2 linked regions of the Homo sapiens genome follow. The protein of the gene in region 2 interacts with the protein of the main gene of each other region in a pairwise test. Each region holds a gene or a part of one and is shown on either strand. Other genes may lie near its edges.

Evidence for each region. The genes of interacting proteins can lie anywhere in the genome.
Region 1: the proteins of CCDC81 (region 2) and SCIMP interact in binary tests that used the Homo sapiens proteins (3 or more experiments, as listed by UniProt).

Annotation. Positions count from the first base shown.
Region 1 is NC_000017.11:5,224,060-5,232,131, reverse strand, and holds part of SCIMP (SLP adapter and CSK-interacting membrane protein), read left to right. Parts: intron 1-8,072. UniProt on the Homo sapiens protein: Lipid tetraspanin-associated transmembrane adapter/mediator that acts as a scaffold for Src-family kinases and other signaling proteins in immune cells.
Region 2 is NC_000011.10:86,405,056-86,413,127, reverse strand, and holds part of CCDC81 (coiled-coil domain-containing protein 81), read right to left. Parts: intron 5,515-8,072; coding exon 5,427-5,514; intron 5,002-5,426; coding exon 4,858-5,001; intron 3,868-4,857; coding exon 3,763-3,867; intron 742-3,762; coding exon 569-741; intron 1-568.

The DNA.
Region 1 (8,072 bases), on a different chromosome or scaffold from region 2:
ATACCAAATGAGGCCCATTCTGCTCATCGCACAGTAAGCCAATCACTGAGGTGACCAGTTTTTTTTTTTTGTTTTTGAGACGGAGTCTCGCTCTGTCGCCCAGGCTGGAGTGCAGTGGCGCAATCTCGGCTCACTGCAAGCTCCGCCTCCCGGGTTCACGCCATTCTCCTGCCTCAGCCTCCCGAGTAGCTGGGACTACAGGCGCCTGCCACCATGCCTGGCTAATTTTTTGTATTTTTTAAGTAGAGACAGGGTTTCATTGTGTTAGCCAGGATGGTCTTGATCTCCTGACCTCGTGATCCGCCCGCCTCAGCCTCCCAAAGTGCTGGGATTACAGGCGTGAGCCACCGCGTCCCGCCAAGATGACCAGTTTTGCAGCACAGAATGCATTTATTCATGAGGCAGCCAAGTGAGGAGATGGGAAAACAGGTCTCAAACCCACTTCCTCGAAGATGGGGTTTAGAGACGTTTATGGGACAAAGAAGCAGGTGGCCTAAGGTGTGGGGAAGGTGATTGGAGGGAAAAGTAGGACATCGGCAATCTGTGCAAGCCTAGTCAAGCTTCATCGTTCTTCATAGGATGCAGGTTCACAAAATGGTGGCATTAGCATGATGGAAGATGGAGTTTTTGGCGCTCTGACATCAAACGTCACCTACTGGACACTCACACAGACCAAGTTGAAGGATTGATGGTCATAAGTGGCTTGAACTGGATAAGAGCTGACCCCAAGTTCCTGAAAAACAACTTTTTTTCTTTTCTTTTTTTTTTTTTGAGATGGAGTTTCACTCTCGTCACTCAGGCTGGAGTGCAATGGCGTGATCCTGGAGGCTCACTGCAACCTCTACCTCCTGGGTTCAAATGATTCTCCCTCAGCCTTCCGAGTGGCTGGGATTACAGGCGCCTGCCACCACACCAGGCTAATTTCTGTATTTTTAGTAGAGACGGGGTTTCACCATCTTGGCCAGGCTGGTCTCGAACTCCTGACTTCAGGTGATCTGCCTACCTTGGCCTCCCAAAGTGCTGGGATTACAGGCGTGAGCCACCGTGCCCAGCCCTTGAAAAACAACTTAAACAACCATTACTATGATGACCTATATGTCAGAGATGTTATCCAGCAGGAAGCTAGTGGAAGTCCAGTTAAATATTGCTTAGCTACATGACTTTTAGCTCTATAGGCTTTTTTCTTTTTTAAAGACAGGGTCTCACTCTATAACCCAGGCTAGAGTGCACTGATGGTAATCACAGCTCACTGCAGCCTCAATCTCCTAGAGTCAAGCCATCCTCCCACCTCAGCCTCCTGAGTATCTGGGACTACAGGCACATGCCGCCACATCTGGTTTTGTTTTGTTTTGTTTTGTTTTGTTTTTATTTTCAGTAGAGAGAAAGTCTCGCTGTGTTGCCTAGGCTGGTCTTGAACTCCTGGGCTCAAGTGATCCTCCAGCCTCGGCCTCCCAAAGTGCTGGGATTACAAGTGTGAGCCACTGCCCCCAGTAGCTATATAGGTTTTAAGATCAACTAGAAGCAAGTGACTAAAATCAAGTAAGGTAGGTTAAGTTCTGCAGGCCTAATCTAGCCCTCGGGTTCACTCCCACCTTTGCACCATCCTGCTGGCTTCCCTTTTCATCTTTCCATCCCTTCTTCTCATCACCTTCCCTCCCAGAACTCCAAATTCTCCCCTTCTATAACCCAGAGGAATTCAACATTCCCCAGTTCCTACCAGCAAACTTCATTCCTAACCCAGCCAGCTTTGCAGATCTGCAGATCCTCTGCAGGGAGAATAGGGGACTCTCCTGGTCGGTAGCTGCCCTTCTTAGAAGACACTTGCTATTGTAAATAGAACTTGGTTGGTTTGCCCTTAATAATGCCTCATGCTTGGTGATCTTCTGCACACAGAGCTCTTTTGCATGCAACATCTCTTGGAAGCTTTTCAGAAGCCTGCAAGGAGACGTTAAGCATCTTATTCCAAGTGCAACAGCTAAGTGGGAACAGGAAACCTATTCCCTCTGGCCAGGTGCAGTGGCTCATGCCTGTAATCCTGGTACTTTGGGAGGCTGGGGCGGAGGATCACTTGGGGCCCAGAGTTTGAAACCAGCCTAGGCAACATTTTTTGTGTGTCTACAACATTTTTTTGTCTCTACAAAAAGGAAAAGAAGGGAAAGGAGAGGAGAAAAAGGAGAGGAGAGAAGAAAGGAGAGAAGAGGAGAGGAGAAAGGAGAGAGGAGAGGACCGGAGAGGAGAGGAGTGGAGAGGAGAGGAGCAGAGAGGAGAAAGGAGAAGAGGGGAGAAAGGAGATGGGGGAAGGGGAGGGGAGGGGAACTTGTTCCCTTGATGGCCAGCCTAGGGCCCTTCAGCGCTTCATTTATGTGAATACGTGAATAACTATCACAACGTAAACCATATTTCTTACTGAAGATCTTCTTTTAAAAATGCTAAATACGCCGGACGCAGTGGCTCATGCCTGTAATCCCAGCACTTTGGGAGGCCAAGGCGGGTGGATCACCTGAAGTCAGGAGTTCAAGACCAGCCTGACCAATATGGTGTGAAACGCCATCTCTACTAAAAATATAAAAATTAGCCGGGCATGGTGGCGTGCGACTGTAGTCCCAGCTACTTGGGAGGCTAAGACAGGAGAATTGCTTGAACCGGGGAGATGGAGGTTGCAGTGAGCCAAGGTCGCGCCACTGCACTCCAGCCTGGGCAACAGAGCAAGACTCTGTCTCAAAAAAAAAAAAAAAAAAAAAAAAAAAGCTAAATAAACCCACAGTCTCAGAAATTCCTGGTGAAGGAAAATGTGATTTCTGTCCCTGACACCCTGGAAATGCCCTTTGGAGAAATGAAAGTGAAGCTGATGTGTTGACTGCCTTCAGTTGCTCTCCCACTCACACGCCCTCTTCACTGTGGAAGGTCTTGCCAAATCCTTTCCACTGAAACCACCCAGAACTGCAACAGGCTCACTCATGTTCCTTGAAAATGTCATGGACAACTAGAGGAATGGGGAGAAACAAAGGGGAAGCTGGAACTCCACCTCCCCAGCATTGGATTGCCACTGCTTCCCAGCCAGCCTCTTGGCCCCAGTAGCCAATGGCCAGCGCAGGACGGGGAGCCTGCCCAGGGTCGCGTGTCCAGATGAGGCTTTGGAATTAGACTGCACAGCACAGTAATTTCAGTTACTGGACCCAAAGTGACTTCTGCCTGCATTCTCGGGTGGGAGGTCCATCTATAGCAGGGGAAAGAGACTGGGGCATCATCCATTCTTTCGTATATTCACAGATATGTATGGTATGTCCTGCCCCAGGTGATGTTCTAGGCGCTAGAAACACAGTGGTAATTACAGGCAAAGCCTCTGCTCTTATGCTGCTTGCCCATCAGTGTGGGAGACAGACAAGGAACAAACAAATAAAAAGAACAAATACACCAAGAGACAACTGTCACTGTCACAGGCTCAGTTGGAAGAAAAATGCATTTCACTGTTTTTTCTTTTTTTTTTGAGACAGGGTCTTACTCTGTCACTCAGGCTGGAGTGCAGTGGCACATTCATGGCCCAATGTAGCCTCGAATCCCTGGGCTCAAGCAATCCTCTCACCTAAGCTTCTTGAGTAGCTGGGACTATAGGCATGCACCACCTTGCCTGGCAAATTTTTAATTTTTTTTGTAGAGACAAGGTCTTGCTGTGTTGCCCAGGCTGGTTGCTAACTCCTGGCCTTCAGTGATCCTCCTGCCTCAGCCTCCAAAACTGTTGAGATTACAGGTGTGAGCCACTGTGCTCAATGCATTTTTTTTTTTTTTGAGACAAGATTTGGCTCTGTCACCCAGGCTGCAGTGCAGTGGCGTGACTGCAGCTCACTACAGCCTCAACTTCCTGGGCTCCAACAATCCTCCCACTTCAACCTCCCATGTAGCTGGGGCCACAGGCGCGTGCCACCATGCCCAACTTATTTTTCATTTTTAAAATTTTGTTTGGAGAAGGAGTCTAGCTCTGTTGCCCAGGCTGGAGTGCAGTGGCGTGATCTCGGCTCACCACAACCTCCGCCTCCCAGTGTCAAGCAATTCTCCTGCCTCAGCCTCCCAAGTAGCTGAGATTACAGGTGCACACCACCATGCCTGGCTAATTTTTGTATTTTAGTAGAGACGGGGTTTCACCATGTTGGCCAGGCTGGTCTTGAACTCCTGACCTCATGATCTGCCTGCCTCGGCCTCCCAAAGTGCTGGGATTACAGGCATGAGCCACCGCGCCCAACATATTTCACATATACATATTGCAGGGGGTAGTGACATCCCTTCACGTAGCTGAGTTCTTCTTGGGATGCGGTAGGCAAGGAGAAAGGATGGCCTCACGAGAGAGGCTCCACCAACTAAAATTGTGAAGAAAGCGCCATGGGAATGGGGGATGGGGACTGGGCTGGAAGGTGGAGGAGTTGGTGCGTGCTATTGCACTGCTCTGCTCAAGCCGGACCCCTCCCACCTCAACCCCCACACTGTTGACTTTGCCTCCCACCTCAGAGGAAATGGAAACTTAGGTGTGAGCTCTCAACTTCCTGCCCCCAAGCCCCTTCTCTCTGGTTCTATTCAGTGTCACTCCCTTCTCTAATCCTTGTTCCCTTTTGAAAGTTCATTCTGGGTGGGCAGGGTGGCTCACGCCTGTAATCCCAGAACTTTGGGAGGCCGAGGCATGCGGATCACTTGAGATTAGGAGTTCAAGACCACCCTGGCCAACATGGTGAAACCCCCTGAGTAGCTGAGGAGGAGCTTAACCTCCTGAGTAGCTGTGACTATAGGCACATGCCGCCACACCTGGCTAAGTGTAAGAGTGTGTGTGTGTGTGTGTGTGTGTGTGTGTGTTGTGTGTGTGTGTATATAGAGACAGGGTCTTGCTATGTTGCCCAAGCTGATCATGAACTCCTGGACTCAAGTGATCCGCCTGCCTTGGCCTCCTGAAGTGCTAGGATTACAAGCATGAGCTACTGCACTCGGCCAGTGCAAACACTTCTTTGCGATCCTTCAGTAGCCCTCAGTAGTCCTGTACTCACAATCTTATCGGCCCTCTGTGGCAACAACTCCAGGTCTGCCAGCACAGGTAGGATCCAGCTTTCATACCTTCCCAGGGCCTGAACTCGGTCATGCAGCCATTGTGTACTCCCTGTTTTCTGTACTCTCTATCATCCTTCCCCAGGGCTTCCTCTCTCTGGAAGCACCTTGGCCATTAAACCAGCCTGGTGGCCTAGAGGACATCCTACTGGAACTAGGATGTGATTCTCTTAGGCCCCCTCTCTCAGCTGCCCTCTCTCAAAAAGCAAGCTCTCCTTGGTTCTATTAAAAATGTGTCGGCCGGGCGTGGTGGCTCATGCCTGTAATCCCAGCACTTTGGGAGGCTGAGGCAGGCGGATCACCTGAGGTCAGGAGTTCGAGACCAGCCTGGCCAACATGGTGAAACCCCATCTCTACTAAAAATACAAAAAAAATTAGCCGGGCATGGTGGCACACACCTGTAATCGCAGCTACTGGAGAGGCTGAGGCAGAAGAATCGCTTGAACTGGAGAGGTGGAGGGTGCAGTGAGCCGAGATCACGCCATCGCACTCCAGCCTGGGGTACAAGAGCGAGACTTCATCTCAAAAAAAAAAAAAAGAAAGAAAGAAAAAAGAAAAGAAAAAGTGCCTCTCTGCGGTCCATTTCACTTGTAAGAACAAAACTGACAAAAAATATTTATTACTCTGAGTAGTTCTGAAAATGACCCATGGTTTCACTTTCTGACAACATCATTCCACTTCCTCTTTCCCAAGAAACTGATGAGAATGAAATTTCCTTGACCTTGAAACCCAAGCAATAGTTTTTTTTGGAAGCTACACTACATGGCCAATTTATTCTTTCCAGTGTTATCAAAGTAAATGTACGTAGTGCAAAAATCAAGTAATGCAGAGTTTATAACGAAAAGCAACAGCCCCTGTCTTCCCGCCTCGACCTTCCACGCAGTCACAATCCAGATACAACAGCTTTGAATGCGCAGGTCGTGGTATTTATTTCTATCGCTCTAAAGAGTATTGTTTCAGGAAAAACTCTGCAAGCGGTGTTTTTCCTCTGTTCTCACACCAGCACAACAATCACCAACACAGAAAAGGGCTTCTGTGACCAAATGTGTGAGGGTTTTTCCGCCACACACCAAGCAGTGAACACCAGCTGGGTGTTCTCCAATTCAATGCCAGCACTATAGACCCAGAGATAGTATCAGATCTCACAGCTCAGTTCCCAAGACTGCTGCCCCCAACTCCCCAGACGTCAGTCGCAAGTCCGGGCCTCTGGAACTTGAGAGCAACCAGCTTCAAGTTGGGGTTCTCACAACTCCCTCTTTGAGATCGGTGTTTTTTTTTTTTTTTCAGATGGAATCTCGCTCTTGTTGCCCAGGCTGGAGTGCAATGGCACAACCTCGGCTCACCGCAACCTCTGACTCCCAGGTTCAAGCAATTCTCTTGCCTCAGTCTCTCAAGTAGCTGGGATTACAGGCGTGCACCACCATGCCCAGCTAATTTTTTGTATTTTTAGTAGAGAAGGGGTTTCACCATGATGGCCAAGCTGGTTTCGAACTCCTGACCTCATGTGATCCGCCTGCCTCAGCCACCCAAAGTTATGAGATTACAGGCGTGAGCCACTGCACCCAGCCTTTGCTTTTGTTTTGAGATGGAGTCTTGCTCTGTTGTCCAGGCTGGAATGTAGTGGCGTGATCTCGGCTTACTGCCACCTCTGCTTCCTGGCTTTAAGCAATTCTCCCGCCTCAGCCTCCTGAGTAGCTGGGACTACAGGCATGTGCCACCACACCCAGCTAATTTTTGTATTTTTAGTAGAGACAGGGTTTCGCCATGTTGGCCAGGCTGGTCTTGAACTCCTGACCTGAAGTGATCTGCCCTCCTCAGCCTCCCAAAGTGCTGGGATTACAGGCGTGAGCCACCGCACCTGGCCGTGTTATGCAGTTTTATTGGAGGTTTGATGGTAACAAAAGGCGACACCACAGCATAACCTAGGTAGCAATTTAAGGCTGGACATGAGGCATTACTGTCCTAGAAACGCCTTGGTCATTTGCCACTATGGGAGCTTCCTAACCAGGATCTGACTTGTGCTCTCTTCTTGACCTCTCACTCTGCTGCTAACCTTTTCCGAGACTTTCCCGGTCTCTGGTCTGTCAGCTTCCAGCCCCCAAATGCCTGTTAACTCTCTCATGCAGATCAACTCAGTTTGCCCTGTATCTTCAGCTTCACCCTTCTGACCATAACTCACTCAAAGAGACCCATCCAGCTATTTTTCTAACCCTCAACTCAAACAAAAGCTCTCAAAATTTCTCTCCCCTGCTATGCATTAAGTCTGACTTGTCCTTGTGATTAAAAACAACTGGCTGGGCATGGTGGCTTGCACCTATAATCCTAGCACTTTGGGAGGCCGAGGCAGGTAGATCACAAGGTCAGGAGTTCGAGACTAGCTTGGCCAACATGATGAAACCCCGTCTCTACTAAAAATATAAAAATTAGCCAGGCGAGGTGGCACACACCTTTAATCCCAGCTACTCAGGAGGCTGAGGCAGGAGAATTGCTTGGGAGGCAGAGGTTGCAGTGAGCCAAGATCGCGCCACTGCACTCCAGCCTGGGCGACAGAGCAAGCCTCTGTCTCAAAAAACAAACAAACAAACAAACAAACAAACAAACAAAAAAACTGGCCTGGTGCAGTGGCTCACGCCTGTAATCCCAGCACTTTGGGAGGCCGAGGCAGGCAGATCACGAGGTCAGGAGATCGAGACTATCCTGGCTAACACGGTGAAACCCCGTCTCTACTAAAAAAATACAAAAAAATCAGCCGGGCGTGGTCGTGGGCGCCTGTAGTCCCAGCTACTCGGGAGGCTGAGGCAGGAGAATGATGTGAACCCAGGAAGCAGAGTTTGCAGAGAGCCCAGATCGCGCCACTGCACTCCAGCCTGAGTTACAGAGCGAGACTCCGTCTCAAGAAAAAAAACAACCCTGCAGTCAATTATTGCTTTAAATGGCACCTTCCCCCTCCTGCTGCATGTCTGAAAGAGCAGTGATGATGTCTACCA
Region 2 (8,072 bases):
AGCAGCCCGACTCAGGGGAATACCATCTCCTTTCTGGCTCATCCATCTGTTGAAAGCTACTTCCACTCAATAAAACCTTGCACTCATTCTCCAAGCCCACATGTGATCCAATTCTTCTGGTACACCAAGGCAAGAACCCTCGGATACAGAAAGCCCTCTCTCCTTGTGATAAGACAGGGGTCTATTGCGCTGACTAACACAAGCCACCTACAGATGGCTAAACTAAAAGAGCACTCTGTAACACATGCCCACTGGGGCTTCAGGAGCTGTAAACATTCACCCCTAGATACTGCCGTGTGGCCAGAGCCCCACAGCCTGCCCATCTGTATGCTCTCCTAGAGGTTTGAGCAGCAGGGCACTGAAGAAGCAAGCCACACCCCCACTGCATGCCCTGCGAGGGGGACGAGGGAACTTTTCCCATTTCAGTACTGGCTGCTAACTGGGTTAGTTTGCTCAGTTGGTTACAGTGTGCTAATGAAACTACCAATGCTGATTCAATCCTACATGAAAAGTAACTTCACATGAAAATTCCAAATCCATTTGTCAGAGCGTGTGTAGCTGGACTCACTCCTCTGTGAGTTGCACTTGTTCCAGGCGGTCCATCAACTCTCTGTATTGTCTTTGCTTTATTTCGTTTTCCTGTCTGTTATCCATTTGTTTCAGGAGACTCCGGGAATATTCCTCTTGCTTAAGAGCATTAAGCGCAGGACTGAGTGGCCGTTTGTCAAATAGGAAGGATTTCTAGAATGAAAGAGAAGCAATTCATTTATGCTAGAGTACTGAAAAACAAGGTTAATAATTCAGAAGACTAAGATAAATCAGAAAGTATTTCTTAATTTATAATATTTGCCCAGCCCTCAACACACGGACCAGCTGGTGTTGAGGTAACACATAGAATCATATGAGTGTGTTCAAGGATGAAGCTGAGCTGAGCTGTGTTACCAAAACACCAGGGGTTTGGTCTAGGTGCTCACAGCACAGAAAGCCAATCACTGAGACAATGATTATTGCCAGGGAAGAAGGATTTAATTGGGTGCTGTAGCCAAGGAGATGAGAGATCAGTCTCAAATCCATCTCCTTGACCAACTAAAAGTAGGGGTTTATATAGCAGGGAAGAATTGAAACTATGTATGGGAAAACCAGAATTCGGGAGGGATAAGGAAGCAATCATGGTCAATGGAGGGGCCTGGCTCATTGTCTGAATGCAATCATCTGGTGAGTTTCAATTCTTTGACACTTTTTGGAAGGCCTAGTGGTTCTTTTCTGAGGAAGAAACTCAGATAAAACAATGTTAAGTTTCAAGCTTTAAGACCAAAAGGGTCAATTTCTATGTTTATTTAAAACAAAAACAAAAACAAAACCTGTCTGTGGGACTATTGGGTCAGTTTCAACTGGAATCCCATTGCTGAGACAGAGATGAAAAAGGACTCCTGGAGTAGGTTGTGAGTTAGCATTTACAACATCCAGATGGAAGGAAGAAGGAATTCTGAGTGCATGCGAAATCATGCAAGGACAGAGAGGAGCTGAAAGGAGGGCAAACTGAATACCTACTGTGGGCCTGGCCATTCTAGACCCTGGTGATCCAACAGTGAGCAACAACAGAGATCTTCGCACTCATCAAGCCTGCATGCTGATGCAGGAGACAGACAATGAGCAAGAAACGGTACATCAGGTCATTTAAGATAGTGCTAAGTGCTAGGAAGCCCTTATGATAGCAAGTGGCTGGGTGGGAAAAGAGCTAAACTGGTTGGTTATTAGGGAAGGTTTTTCCATGGAGAAAATGAATCACCTTCACTGTAAATATCAGGGAGACCCGTGTTCCATACAGAAGGAACATTAAGCGCAAAGACACTAGATGGAAACAAGCTAGGCATGTTCAATGAGCAGAAAAAAAGTCTCTGTGGCTGAGGCATAGTGACCAAGGGAAAGGAGAAGGCATAGTGACCAAGAGGAAGGCAGGAGTCAAAGCGTGTAGAATTTGATAGTTGAAGGTGAGGAGTCTAAATTTCATTTTAACTCAATGGGAGGCCAGTGGAGGTTTTAAATGGGAGAATAGTATGTTTTGGTTAACAATATTATAATATCACTTTGGCTGGTGTGTGGAGAATAAATTATAGGAGAGCAAGAATGCAAGCAGTGAATCTAAGGGAAGTATTGGAGAAGTTGAGCATAACAATGTGGCTTGGCAACACTTTCAGTGTGGCAACATTAAAGATGAAGACATTTGGACAGGTATTGGATACATTTTGGAGGTAAAGGCAACTGGACTTGCAAATGATCGGAAGTCAGGAACAGAGAAAGGAATATTGTGATCATGACTAAATACAGGTTTGTGCAAAAATGGCTGGTTGGTGATGCCACTTACTAACATGAGAAGACAGAAAGGAACAGGTTAAGGAGGGAATCAAAAGTTCTGTTTAGGTCTTTTTAAATTTAAGATGTGTATAGATATATCAAAGAAGAGATACACAGCAGTAATAAATATAATCTGGAGCTTATATATAAAGAGAGAGAAAGATCATGCCTAAATTTCAGAAGCCCCATGCTCGCTCGCTCTCTCCTTCCTTCCCTGTTTCCCTGCCTGGAATGCTCTTCCTCCCTTGATTTCTTTACCTAACTCTTGTATGTCAGAAAGTCTTTCCAGATCTCTGGTCTAGGTTAATGAATCTCTTCTTTTGCTCATATAGTGCCCTTTTTTCAGAGATTTATCATCGCATTTATTATACCACACAGTTGTCTCTTTAAGTGTCTGTCTCTCCCACTAGAGACCTCTTCAGAAGAGGGAACCTTGTATTCCTAGACACCAGCACAGTGGCTGGCCTGGAGGAATTCAATAAATGTTTGATGATGAATAAATAAATTATAATTTATTAGATTTATGTCCGGAGTGTCGACTACCTAGATGGTGATATATAAAGAGGAAGATTCAGGCAGAAATAAAGGTAGGCACATGATGATTGAAAACATTAAAACAAGCAGTGAAGCAGTTGGCTCACCACCATCTGAATCTGAGTTTCTCAAACATTAATGCAAATACAAATCACCTGGGGATGTTATTCCACCATAGATGCCCATTCAGGGAGTCTGGGGTGAGGCCCTAGATTCAGCATTTCCAGCAAGTTCCCAGGCAATGCTGATACTGCTGGTTCTCTTAGGTCCTTGGGCTGGACTTTAGTAGTATACTGCTCCCTCCTCTCCACCCATCCCACGTCCTGGTTGAGAATTACCATAATTAACAAGACCTGCAGTGACTAGTAGGAATGGTACAGTGAATGTGAGTGGTGTGGCTATAGACACTGGACAACACCTGCCCTAGAAGAAAGCTTCAAACTGCACCACCCACTTTTCAACTCCGCTGCTTAAAAAAAATGGCACAACTGGCTGGGCATGGTGGCTCACACTTGTAATCCCAGCACTTTGGGAGGCCAAGACGGGCAGATCATGAGACCAGGAGTTCAAGACCAGCCTGGCCAACATGGCGAAACCCTGTCTCTACTAAAAATACAAAAATAGCGGGGCATGGTGGCGGGTGCCTGTAATCCCAGCTACTCGGGAGGCTGAGGCAGGAGAATGACTTGAACCCGGGAGGCAGAGTTGCAGTGAGCTGAGACCACACCATTGCACTGCAGCCTGGGTGACGGAGCAAGACTCCATCTCAAAAAATAAAAATAAAAAATAAGGCACAACCTGCAACACAGGGAGTGGATCCAAAGGCTCACAGATGGGCCAGGTGTTAGCAACAGAAATTTTTAAAAGACTTACATAAAATTCCGGTTTCTCATTCTTGTGGTTTCTTATAGCTTCAGCAACTCCAAGATTATAGGCAGCATTTTTCTGATTCTGTTCTCTAGTAGCCAGACTTTTCATCTATTGTTTAAAAAAAAAAAAAGTTTATTTTTAAATTTTAAATTACATATTGAAGTGGAGCCCCCAAAAATTTTAATTCTATTACATTAAAATAATCCAGCCATGGTAGAAACCTGCCTTTTGGAGGCAGTGGTACTTTCTGATATCTCTATAGATTTATAAAAGTAGATTGGGAAAGGTATTTTATTTCCTTTTCTTGGCCTTTAGGTACCACCACTAGAGGGATCTAAGGAATGGAAGAATTCATCACAAATGCAGGAAAGGGCAGGCAGCAGGGTCAATTATTAGACACCACATAAATCTGGATACAGCAAGTGTAAAAGTGCCATTCTGTCTTTGCTTGAAATAGGACATGAATCTGAAGGGTAAAAGCCTTCACCAGAGTTATATTTTATCAGAAATAAAGAAACATAAATCCAATAATTCCACCTTTAAAATTCAGACCTTAGGTTAAAGAAAATCAGTGATATGTGCAAACATTCGACTGCATGGAATTCATCCCAGTGTTGTTTATTATTAGTGAAAACTTCAACGCAAGTTTTAGTCTAACAGTAAATACGTGATTAGATATCCCACAGTACAGACATATGATGGAACATTTTTAAATTACATTATAGGCTGGGCTCAGTGGGTAATGCCTGTAATCCCAGCACTTTGGGAGGCAGAGGCGGGAGTTGGAGCCTCTGGATGCTTGAGCCCAGGAGTTGGAGACCACCCTGGGCAACATGGTGAAACCCTGTCTCTACAAAAAATACATAAATTAGCCAGGTGTAGTGACGTGTGCCTGTAGTCCCAGCTAATCTGGAGGCTGAGGTCGAAGGATCATCTGAGCCCAAGTAGGTCAAGGCTGCAGTGAGCAGAGGTTGTGCCACTGCATTCCAACCTGGGTGACAGAGTGAGACCCTGCGCCAATAAAAAATAATAATAAATTACATTATATAATCATGTTCTATTGCCCCATATTAAAGACTAATCGAGGTGTTGGACTACCTGGTGTCTGAAGAGAGCCTCCTGATCCTTTAACATCTGATACTGCTGTATGAGTCTCTCATCTTCTATCTCTCTCCTCCTTTCCTCACTGTAGTACAACAGGGAATTTCGTTGTGCTCGTTGCAAACATACATAGCACATTTCCTACAATCCCAAATTTCAGGACAAATAAATTTTTACATTTTACCTTTTTGCTTTCGCATTCCCTTCACAAGCTCTCCAAAGGCTAGGTATATCAAGAAACCTATTATTAATGGATATATTAGTGACAGCAAAATGAGATTTGCAGAGTGGACCCCAGAAATACTCTAAAGGATCTTCTGAACTCTCACTTCATCAGAAGTATTTATAGCAGCTGAAACTTAGAAAGGGATTTCTCAACTCTTTTTTTGTTTACCAGTACATCTTGACTAGTAGATAGATTTATCACAGTCTAGTTTTGAGCCTGAGTACTTGAGTACTTGAGCCATACTCATATAATTAAGGAAGAGAGATTCCCAGAACTCTCTTTGAGAAACAAAAATCAGTATAAGATTCTGATGGGACTTATTTGTTTGGAAACACTGTACCTGTCCTGCCTTGTTATGATCCTGGCAAGCTGGAGATGTTTGGGGCTTCATCTCACTGTCGTGTTTCAGACAACTTGGATATGATAAGCTATAAAAACAATGCAACATTAATTAATGTTTAATACAATCTGACCTCAAGGGCAATAATAATTTTAGAGGCAAGTATAAGATGAAGAAAAATATTTCAGTGGTTTACTTCAAAACAGCTATATGTATAGAGGTTAAGAATATGTACCACAGAATCTGAATTTGTGTCAGATAAAGGTGGGTTTGAATCCCAGCTTTCTTGCTTGCAAGATGACTGACATCAGACCAGCTGTGTAATCTTGCAAAGTCCCAGTTACCAGTCATGTGAAATGGGGATGAAATGTATTCATTCCACAGAAATGTATTGAGTGCTTACCATGTACACTGTTCTAAGCACAGGAGAAGCAATGAAGAACAAAATACACACATACAAAAGTCCCTGCCCTCATGGAATTAACATTCTGATGGGGATAGACAGCCCAGTGACAAGATAAATAAGTGCACTCTATAGTATGTTCCATGATGATAAATGCCTTGCAATGCTGGAGGAATGGAGTGTTAAACTGTAAAGAGAATGGCCAGGGAAGTTCTTACCAAGGAAGTGACATAGGAGTAAATACCTGAAGGAAGTAAGAGAACAACAGTGTAGATATCTGATGGAAAAGACATTCCAAGCAAACAAACCAGTGCAGTCCTTCAGGTGGAAGGTGCCTATGGTCAGTGTGGTGGAGGGAGATGAATTAGGGGTGAGTATTAATATTAATACTAGTATTAATTCATTAGAAAATAGGACAGATAGTATCACCTAAAAAGCAGCTCGAAGAATGAAAATATTTATTTTTTAATTTTATTTATGTTATTTTATTTTTTGAGACAGAGTCTCGCTCTGTCACCCAGGCTGGAGTGCAATGGCGCAATCTCAGCTCACTGCAACCTCTGCCTCCCAAGTTCAAGTGATTCTCCTGCCTCGGCCTCCTGAGTAGCTGGGATTACAGGTGCACACCACCATGCTGGGCTAATTTTTGTATTTTTAGTAGAGACGGGGTTTCACCATATTGGTCAGGCTGGTCTCGGACTCCTGACCTAGTGGTCTGCCCACCTCGGCCTCCCAAAGTGCTGGGATTACAGGCATGAGCCACCGCGCCAGGCCAAGAATGAAAATATTTAAAAGTAGAGAAATAGAGAACAGATTCAGAAGCTCAAACATGCATTTAATAGAAGTGCTGAATTTTTAGAATAAAGGAAATGGCAAAGAACAATATTCTAGAAAATAACAGATAAGAATTTTCCAGAAAATCATGACTCCTAAGAATAGTCATGCAGAACATCAAGAAATAAGAAAGATTCTTAAAAGCTACAAGAAAGAATGACAACCAGATTGATTCGGACGTTGCATCAGGACAACTGTCAGGAGAAAATGGAGCAATATCATTAAAATGCTGAAGGAAAATAACTGTGAACCAAGAATCAGCACTCAAGAGCGACAACACAGTAAGAATCATTTTAAGCAATACAAAGAATAAGTGTACTGAAAAGACAGGGAACCATTACAGGATATACTTTAGCAAGAAGAAAAATGAACCTAGGAGGAAGGACAGGGATATAAGAAACAGGCCAGGCATGGCGGCCCACACCTGTAATACCAGCACTTTGGGAGGCCGAGGCAGGTGGATAACTTGAGGTCAGGAGCTCGAGACCAGCCTGGCCAACATGGTGAAACCCTGTCTCCGCTAAAAATACAAAAATTAGCCAGGCATGATGGTGTGCGCCTGTAATCCCAACTACTCAGGAGGCTGAAGCAGGAGAATTGGTTGAGCGTGGGAGGCGGAGGTTGCGGTGAGCCAAGATCACGCCACTGCGCTCCAGCCTGGGCAAAAAAAAAAAAAAAAGAAAAAAGAAGAAATGATGGTGACCAAAGAAATTGGTAAAACATGTTGACAAATCCAAATTAATCATTGACCATAAAATAATACAAAATGTTTTAACACTTAAAACCAAATTGGAACAAAAGTTCTAGACAAAAAAAATACAGGTTTGGAAGGGGATACAGTTTGAAGGAAATTGAAAGCATACTGAAGAAACATGGTCAAAGGAAATTCAAAGCATACTAAAGAAATGAGATCAGTCCAACAGAAAAGGGGTAATAATGAAGTTAAATGCACAGTAAATAGAAAATACAAAATAAGACAGTAAAGATAGGTTCAAATATACCAATAATTACAACTGAAATTAAAGTCTAGATTGAGTTTTAAAACATCCAAATATAAGCTATTTAGTAGAGACACACATGAAATAATAAAACACACACAAAAATTCTTAAAATGGCATTAAAAGGCTATTCCAGGTAAATACTAATCAGATGTTGCACTGTTAATTACATAGTACAGAAATGAAGGCAAAAGATTTTAGTAGAGATGAAGGAAAATATTTCATAATGATAAAAGGAACTATCTACCAAAAAAAATCCTAGACATGTAGAATTTAATATTGCTTAAGAAGCAAAAATTGATGTAATTACTGAAAAATATACCATCATGGTGAAAGATTTTTAATATCTCTCTCAAAGAAAAAAATAGTGAGGATTTAAAAGCTTTTAACAACTTATTTTAACAAGGTTTA